Homo sapiens: one gene and its partner. The protein of the gene in region 1 purifies or fractionates together with the protein of each later gene. This does not show direct contact. Each region holds a gene or a part of one and is shown on either strand. Other genes may lie near its edges.

Region 1 (4,563 bases):
AGGCTCTCTGCCTGCTACTCATAAGAAATGCGTCTGTGTAATTAAAACTTGCCCTAAGCCCCAAACTGGGGAGACAGATTTGAGCCCAACTCCTGTCTCCTTGCTGGCCAGCCTTGCAATAAAGCCTTTCTTTTCTCAAAAGCCAATGTCATAGTATTGGCCAATGAGCCCATTTGCTATATTCTCTGGGAAACCAAGTTTTGATAGTTCTGGTCCAGGTTTCTTAGAATCATGTATTTTAAACTCGTTCTGTTTTTCCAAATCTGCATTCTGCTGGATCAAGCTGGAAAGGGTTACAAATTTGAAGATCTTGATGACTAAAACATGTTTGAAAGGCAGAGGAGGACATTGCACCAGGTGGGCCAGCTCTGCCCAATCACAGAAAATCAGGCTCTCAAAGTATAGAGAGAGTGCAGAGCCCAACCCAGTCATGGGCGCATGTGGAACTGTACCTCCTTGTCTTGGGACACAGACTGTGTACAGTGCCTGGTAACACCATGGAAATCTTTTTTTAACTAACAGGAAATGTTCAGAATGGCATTTTGGGGTATGAGGAAGAAGAAAGGCAGGGTTTTTGCATATTTTTTTGAACTCTGTAAGGTAGGTCTATGGTTGCAACATTGAGGTTAATTAGAATTGCAAAGAGAGGCTTGGACATACATCTGGATCTTTGTGATTGCCTAAAAACTCACAGTTAAAAACAAATAGTTGTGTTATCTCCTGAGTTATTTGAATGTTTTGCCCCCTCCATTGAGAGCTATACGAGGGGCTCTTCTGTGGTTTCAAAGGGACCACAGAAACTCCCTTCCTGAACACAGGCAGGACAACTGTGCAAAGTCACTCTGACCACAAATTGCCTCAGCTGGCTCCTAAGGGGCAGCTGTGACAATGGAGGGACAGAGGCAGTGATGTGCAGGCCATCACACTCCAGCCCAAAAAATTAGCTCCCAGCTGGTCCATTCTAGTGTCTCTTCAACCAGGAAGCCCCCAGCACACTCATCACTTCCGGGAACTCTGTTAGTGAGGCCCCTGTGCCCTGTGGTCTGTAAAAAGTCTAGATCTCCATATTGTGGCTGTCAGGACTCAGACATTTGGCCATCTTTAATCTTACCTCTACCTCCCACTTGTCCCACAGAAGAAGACTTAATCCTATCTGTCAAAAAGAATTCGAAATCTCACCACTCACCTCAATCTGAACAGGGTTTGCTAGACCATGATGGCAAAGTCCAGGAGAAAGCCCTGGGCAGAGCAGGGCCAGTTCCCTGGTGCACCTCCATTAGGAGAGGTGAGGAGAACCTGTCCTTGAAACAGAGAGCTCTGAAGCTTCCCACAGTTCAGCTCTGAATTGAGAGGGAGCTGGAGAGAGTGAGCTCAAACTTCGTAGCTGGGTTCAGCCCCAACTGCACAGGCAGGGAGGGGGCACAAGGTCCCCTGTCCACCGATGCTCCTCAGTTTTATTGATGGGTGTCAGGGGAGAGGCCAGAGGGGAGATCCTTCCAGAGCTGAATAAGTGCTAGCCACCTGCCCACCCATACAGCTACCTTTGCAGAGACTGCAGGCATTGCTGCAGGCTGACCTGTCCATCACTGTAGCTGTTTTGTTTCCTGCTCTATCCGCCTGTACCCAGAATACTATCTGGGCCAGAGCAGGGTCTCTGTACATGTATGCGGGTTGAATAATGGAATCCTTGCCAATTTACAGGGCCAAGGGAGCCCTGTGTGAAATCATAATGGCTCAAGAAAATGGTGGCCTAAATAAGCCATTTGTTCCCTCTCTGAGCTACAACTTTGTTGTGTGTAATTTAGTATAAAAATGTTTGGGTCAGAAAGCCACAAAGTGTAGTTCTTGTAGAAAACATACTTGGAGTGTGTGAAGCTGAGCCTTTCTGGTGCAGAGGCTGAGGGGGAGGCTTGCTCTGTGCCCAGAAGGCTACATCACCAGCATCTGTCCACACTCAAGATGGGGGAAAATAGAATATCCCAAAGTGATTAAATACTCAAAGTTCCAAAAACGTGACAGCATGTCAATGTTCAGTAATCACCATAAAGCTACAGCAGCTGCCCTTAGTAATTACTCTTTTTTTCTCTATCTTAATAAATATAAAACACAAAGCCACTGGAGATAGTTATGAAAGTGGTCTGAGGCAGCCCTAACTCAGAACTTTAGGAAGACAGCTCTACACAATTCTCCCTTTTCCAGATCTAGGTATCCTGCTTGTTTTTTGTTGTTGTTGTTGTTTTTAACTAATAGCAGGAATAATGGAAATGCAAACGCTGAACAGGACAATTTTCCTCTCTCTCTCTCTCTTTCTGAAGTATACACTGCATATGAAAAATGCTTCCAAAATTATACGTGCTAGAGAAAAAGAAGGTATCACCAAAAAAAAAAGTTTCTTCAGGAGAAAAAAAGAAAAAAGTAATATAGAGGAAAAATAATAAGATGATTTTTTCTACGCACCTCCCAAAATCACTTTCTTTTTAGACTGCAGATGACTGGTAACTTCAATTGCACTGCAGATGTTAGAAAAGCCCAGTATCTGAGTAAATGTGTATATCATGTTCCCTTTCTAGTCTTCTCACCTTCCACCCCTTGCCTGGCCACATTAATTAATAGTTAAAATGCTGATCATAGACACTTCGGTGAGGGTTTTAGCAAAACCTTCAAGTTGCAGCCCTGGCTCTAAAAATGGGACTGGTAATCACCACAAAAGTGAAAGACTAAGAGGAGGAAAACCCCAAATTTACACAGAAATACACACAACCCTATACATTCAAATAAAAAGAAGAAAATAAAGATAAGGTAAAAGTGTTTGTGCATGCGCACACACAGACACAATTGTTTAAGCCTGACTTCCAAACAACCATCAAAGAAAATCTCCCCTTCTGTTCTTCCCTGAGTGAAGGGCTTTCCTTACCATTCTGGACCACGCTGATGAGGGTGACGATGGCCAACAGGACAACATTGCCTACAGTTTCTTGATCCATGTTTGCTTCAGGCTCCCCAGAGAGGACTGCTCTGCCTCCAGCTGCACAACCTGCCCTGTACAGGAAGGGGAAGTGAGAGCTTGCACTCTTTCATCATTACAATTTCTGAAGATCCCCGGCACAATTACACAGTGCCTTCTTCTTCCTTTTTTTTTTTTTTTTTTTTTTTTTAACTAACCACCAAAATGCCCTGGCTGTGGTTCAGTGTGTCCCACCAGGAGAAGCAGGGCTTGGCAGAGGAGCACGCAAAGCCAGCACACTCTCCTACATTTCCTTGTCATGGGAAACTTCCCTGAGAGTCTCCAGAATGAATCCTGGACCCAAGACCATGACCAGCACGAGCCCAGCACAGGCACCAGAGAATCTGGAAGCTGCCATCATCTCTGACTTCAGCAAAGAGAAAGAAGGGAAAGTAAACCCAAAACTTTCAGGTCAGACAGAGTGGCATAAACCTGTAACCCCAGCATTTTGGGTGGCTGAGGTGGGAAGATTGCTTGGGCCCAGGACTTTGAGGCTACAGTGAGCCAATGATTATGCCACTGCACTCCAGCCTGGGCAACAGAGCAAGACTGTCTCACACACACACACACACGCACACACAAATGTAAAATGAAACTTTAAAAAAATGTATAGAACACCAAAAGATCTGTGCCCCAAATACTGTCCTTCTTTTTTTGAATTCCAAGAAAAAAAGTGAACACTTAACACACGGTAAGTAGCAGCCACATAAGGTTTGAATGAAGGAAGGAATAAATGGCAGTGGGGAGGGACAGCTGATATCTCCATTTCTTCAGAGAAAAGTAATAAAGGGAATTCATAAATTAAACCAAAGAATTCAAACCAAACCAAAGAATTCAGGTAAAAGGCAGAAATGGAGTTACAGATGATCCCTAAGGGAAATTCCCAAAGGGAACTGACTTTTCTGAGGCAATCGCAGAAACACCTTCCTGGAAATTCTTTTCAACTGAATAAGAGTAGAGTGGCTGTGCTTTCTGAGAAAGTATAAGAGTGGACCTGCTGGGTGGGTGAGGTGGCTGCCTGGTATTCTGCAGCTCAGATCAGTGTGAATGGCAATCCCTCTGAGGTTACATGGAAAATGCAAAATACCTGCAATCTTTGTCCCAGACTTAGCTATTTGGCATTGGTTAAGAGGTGCTTTTATCAAAACTTCACTTTGAAAGGGAACATGGACCACTGTAACTAGTGGCAGCAGGGAGGGCTGCATCTCGGCACGGAAGAGGTCAGTGTAGGGGAAGATATTGCTCCCTCATAGGTACAGTGCCAGAGGCCCGCTTCAATGCCCTCGGTTCAGCTGAGAGAGAAAGGCTGATGAAGGCAGCGTGCAGAGTTGTGTGCGGGGAAGCCAGCAGCCAGGGCTGTCGGGCTGGTCATGACACACTTGGGTACTCCCTGAGTACCTAGGGCACTTTGTAGAGTATAGACTTTATATTAGCCAAGGCTCTCCAGAGAAACTGAACCAATATATAAATAAGTCTCCTCATATATATATATTGCAGATTTATAATAGAAATTGGTTCACATGCTCATGGACACCATGAAGTTTCATGGTTTGCCATCT
Region 2 (3,817 bases), on another chromosome or scaffold:
GTGATGACTCATGCTGGTAATCCCAGCACTTTGGGGGGCCAAGGTGAGAGAATTGCTTGAGGCCAGGAGTTTGAGACCAGTCTGGGAAACAGCAAGACCCTGTCTCTGCAACAACAACAACAACAAAATTAGCTGAGTATGGTAGTGCAGGCCTGTAGTCCCAGTTACCTGGGAGGCTGAGAAAGGAGGATCACATGGGCCTCCGAGGTTAAGCCTGCTGCAGTGAGCCAAGATCATGCCACTGTATTCCAGCACTCCAGCCTGGGGCCTGGGTGACAGAACAAGACCCTGTCTTACAAAAAAAAAAAAGCATTAGCTAAAGAGAGGCCAGAAAGATAGAAATAAAATTAAAGGAAGTTGTCAACAGTCCAAACGCAGCTGAGATGTTAAGCGTTTATTAATTACTCTTCAAGTCTGGTCCAAATTAAGGTGGTCTGGCAAGAAAGAATCAAATCAATGATAAAGCTAATTCTAGATGATCCCAGATAAGATATTAAAGAGTTCCACATGGTTTTCCTAAAAGTTTGCTAAAATTTTGTTATTTTCTGTTATATACCATAGAAGTTGGGGGTAAAAAAGCTATATTTCTAGAGACTTTGCTTTCAAAGGCATTCTAAATAGAGAATACATAAGAAAGAGATGTCTCAATTCCACCTTGCTTTGGTCTTCTATCCCTGAAGAATCTTCAAAGTCCTTTACTGATTATTATTTATGCTGAACATGAGCTAGTGGGGTGCTGGGGATATAGCAATGAACAAAGCAGGCAGAATCTCTGCCTCTTTGGCTTTTACATCGTCATATGTGTAATAATGGAAAGTGTCAGGAGCCATGACAGCATTACAAATGAGAGTCCTAATTTAGATTCAAGGTGGGGGATGAAATCAGGAAAGGATCCTTGGAAATGACATTTAAGAGCTTAGACCTGAAGGATGAGCTGGGATAGAACTGAGAGTTTTAGGAAGAGAAGACACAGCATCCATGTAACCCCTAAAATTGAAAGAGGCTTGACATTTTCCAGAAACTGAAAGGCTACATGGGGGGAGTGTGAACGTGAGGTACAGAGTGGTAAGAAACAAGCCTTGTATAGTACACAAGTTCTGGATCACAGAGAACCTTTTAGCTTTGTCCAGGATTTTGCTTATCAGCCTAAAAACAACAGGAAATCACTGATTTATGGAGAATGGATTAAGAGGAGGGAAGGTGGGATGGCAAGACAGAGGCGGAACCCGTAAGGAGAATATAACAGTAGCCTATAAGAGAAAATATAGTGGTTTGTAGTAGGGTGGAGAGAACTTGAGAAATATATACTCTGGGGGTAAAATTCACAGGACTTGGTGACAAATTAAACATAAATAATAAGGGGAAAGAAAGTATCAAGGATAATCCCCAGATTTCTGATATTAGTTTTTAGGTCAACATAGGTGTCATCTACTGACAGAACACTAAGGGAAAAATGTCTATAAGGAAGATCATGTGCATATGTACGCATAATACGAAGGGTCCAACCTTAGCCCTGAACCTGAGCATTCATCTACCTGATCTACTTTGATTGTACTGAGTAACATTTTATAAAGTAGAGACTAGTTCTTTCATTTGGAATACGCAGTGATTAACATGGTATCACAGTTGTGATAAGAATGAACATATAATACAATGAGGGCAACAAATTTCTTAAGTGACATATTAAATGTTTTACTAGCATATAAGGATAAATAAGTTTTTAAAACTCAAAACATATTTTTAACATTTATTGGTTAAAATTTACCTTAGAGTGGAAAATAATTAAGATAGAGACAAAAAAGGCATTCTGCTACAAATGCCATCTCTCAATAAGCAATAAAATAACAATATCTTCCTCTCACCATCTATCAATTTTACGAAGTCTAAAGGTTGGTGACACCATATACTTGAAGCTATGGGAGTAGACAGTATCACAAGGGCACACAGATTTAAACTCTGCTACATAATGAATATATTACCATGTGCAAGAAGAAGTAAATGCTTCTAAGCATGCAACATAGCTAATGATCTTCATAGCTGGAGCAAGAGAGCCCTCTCCTGTCCAAATATTATATTAACATTGGCTTGAATCTAATTCAATTACCTATCTAGATTAGTCTGATTCACTATAAATTACAGCCGATTGACTCTACTTTATTATGGGCTAAAAAAAGCAACTAGAAGTAACCTTCATAATAGCTAATATGTGCCAAGTACTATGCAAACTGCTTAATGAATTATCTCGTTTCAACTTCTGAACAATTCTAAAAGGAATCAAGACCATTTTACACATGAAGAAATTGAGTCTTAGCGAGCTTAAGGACTGCTAAAGAAAAAGCAGGCAGTTCTAAGTATAGGTGCACAGCACCATGCTAGGCTCTGAGAACACAGATATATGACAATCTTTCTCATTTCTAGAAACTCATAAACTAGTAAAAAAAGTCACACAGGCCATTATAAATAAAATCAGTGTTACAATTTTATATTGATTTATAGATTATAGACTGTTTAAAGGCACTGATCAAAGTCCCTTTCACATTCTTATTTGAGTTTCCACAATAAGCTTGACCAGTATGAAGGCCAGGTATGCACCTCACCCCTATACACATAAGAAAAATAAAGCAGTTCAGTGACTGATGCAAAGTAACAAGTCTGTAGGTGACAAAGCCAGGAATTAGAAAACTGTTGGCAATATTATACTATCTGCCAAAAATGAACTAAAATTAACCCTTAATTAATTTAGAGGAGTTCTTAAAACTCCTGTAAGTCACTTTAAGTTCATATCTAAATTCTCAGCCAGTTTCCTCTCAACTACCATAAAATGAAATTCTCAATGCATTCACCAATTAGATGAATGAAATATGGCAGATTATATTTCATGCTCACAAATGTGAGTAGATGCCTTATCTTAATTTCCTTTTACCTTTATCTTTTTTCTTGGAGGCCTCTTCTGCAGAAGATAATCTGGATTTTTTATGTGATGACTCTTCACAGTCTTTTTTGGTTTTATCTTTTCTTTTTTTTGACTTGATTTCTTTTCTCCTTTGTGTTAAACAATATAAAATTAAAGTTAACTTTTCCAACTGACCTTTTCAAAAATAACCATCATATGAACAAAAAACCAAAATCAGTTAAAATACTTATTTTTTAAATGTGATTTATATAATAAGGAACGTTAAGTGAGACTGTAAATATTTTATGCTTGTATATTAATTAAAATCATTCTATAAGATAATGAAGTCTTAACACTGACACAAATAATTACTTTCTATAAGTTCTGTATACGACCATAGTAAATACAAATTATAATTGTATTTGTTTCTTTCTTTCTATATTCTATCACTTAGCCATTTAAAACTAAATTACAAAAAAAAGCCTCATTTCCCTTCACATAATCCATATCCACCTACATGTTAAAAAAACACAAAGAAGAAGAAACTGCTGAACAGCTCTAAGCCACCAGTAAATAGAAATTTCTACTCTTAAGAATAAAGGAATATAGTAGAAGCATAATGGAATGAAAATGGAAAGGGCTTATTGTTAATTCATATATCAACATCAGGCCACTTATAATTTATACTCTTATTGTTGCAGCTTTATCTCTTCTAGAGCAGGTTTACAAGGTTGGCAAACAATTAATTAATTTTAATAGGTTAAGAAAAGAAATACTAAATGGGAAAAAGTGATAATGCTGAAATTGGGACTGGCAAGGAGAATAGAGACAAAGGAAAAGATTACTTTCAAAAAACTTGTTCAGTAGATTTTCCAAGTTAAAGTACATCTACTAAATGCTATAATAGTATTTAATGCATTAACC

The links.
Region 2: the proteins of ALOX5AP (region 1) and FRA10AC1 purify together in Homo sapiens (affinity purification with mass spectrometry; one large-scale study listed by BioGRID and IntAct). This does not show direct contact.

The regions. Positions count from the first base shown.
Region 1 is NC_000013.11:30,734,027-30,738,589, reverse strand, and holds the start of ALOX5AP (arachidonate 5-lipoxygenase-activating protein), read right to left. Parts: upstream 3,048-4,563; 5' UTR 3,040-3,047; coding exon of another isoform or gene 2,985-3,039; coding exon 2,915-2,984; intron 1-2,914. UniProt on the Homo sapiens protein: Required for leukotriene biosynthesis by ALOX5 (5-lipoxygenase). Anchors ALOX5 to the membrane. Binds arachidonic acid, and could play an essential role in the transfer of arachidonic acid to ALOX5.
Region 2 is NC_000010.11:93,678,557-93,682,373, forward strand, and holds part of FRA10AC1 (protein FRA10AC1), read right to left. Parts: intron 3,043-3,817; coding exon 2,924-3,042; intron 1-2,923. UniProt on the Homo sapiens protein: May be involved in pre-mRNA splicing.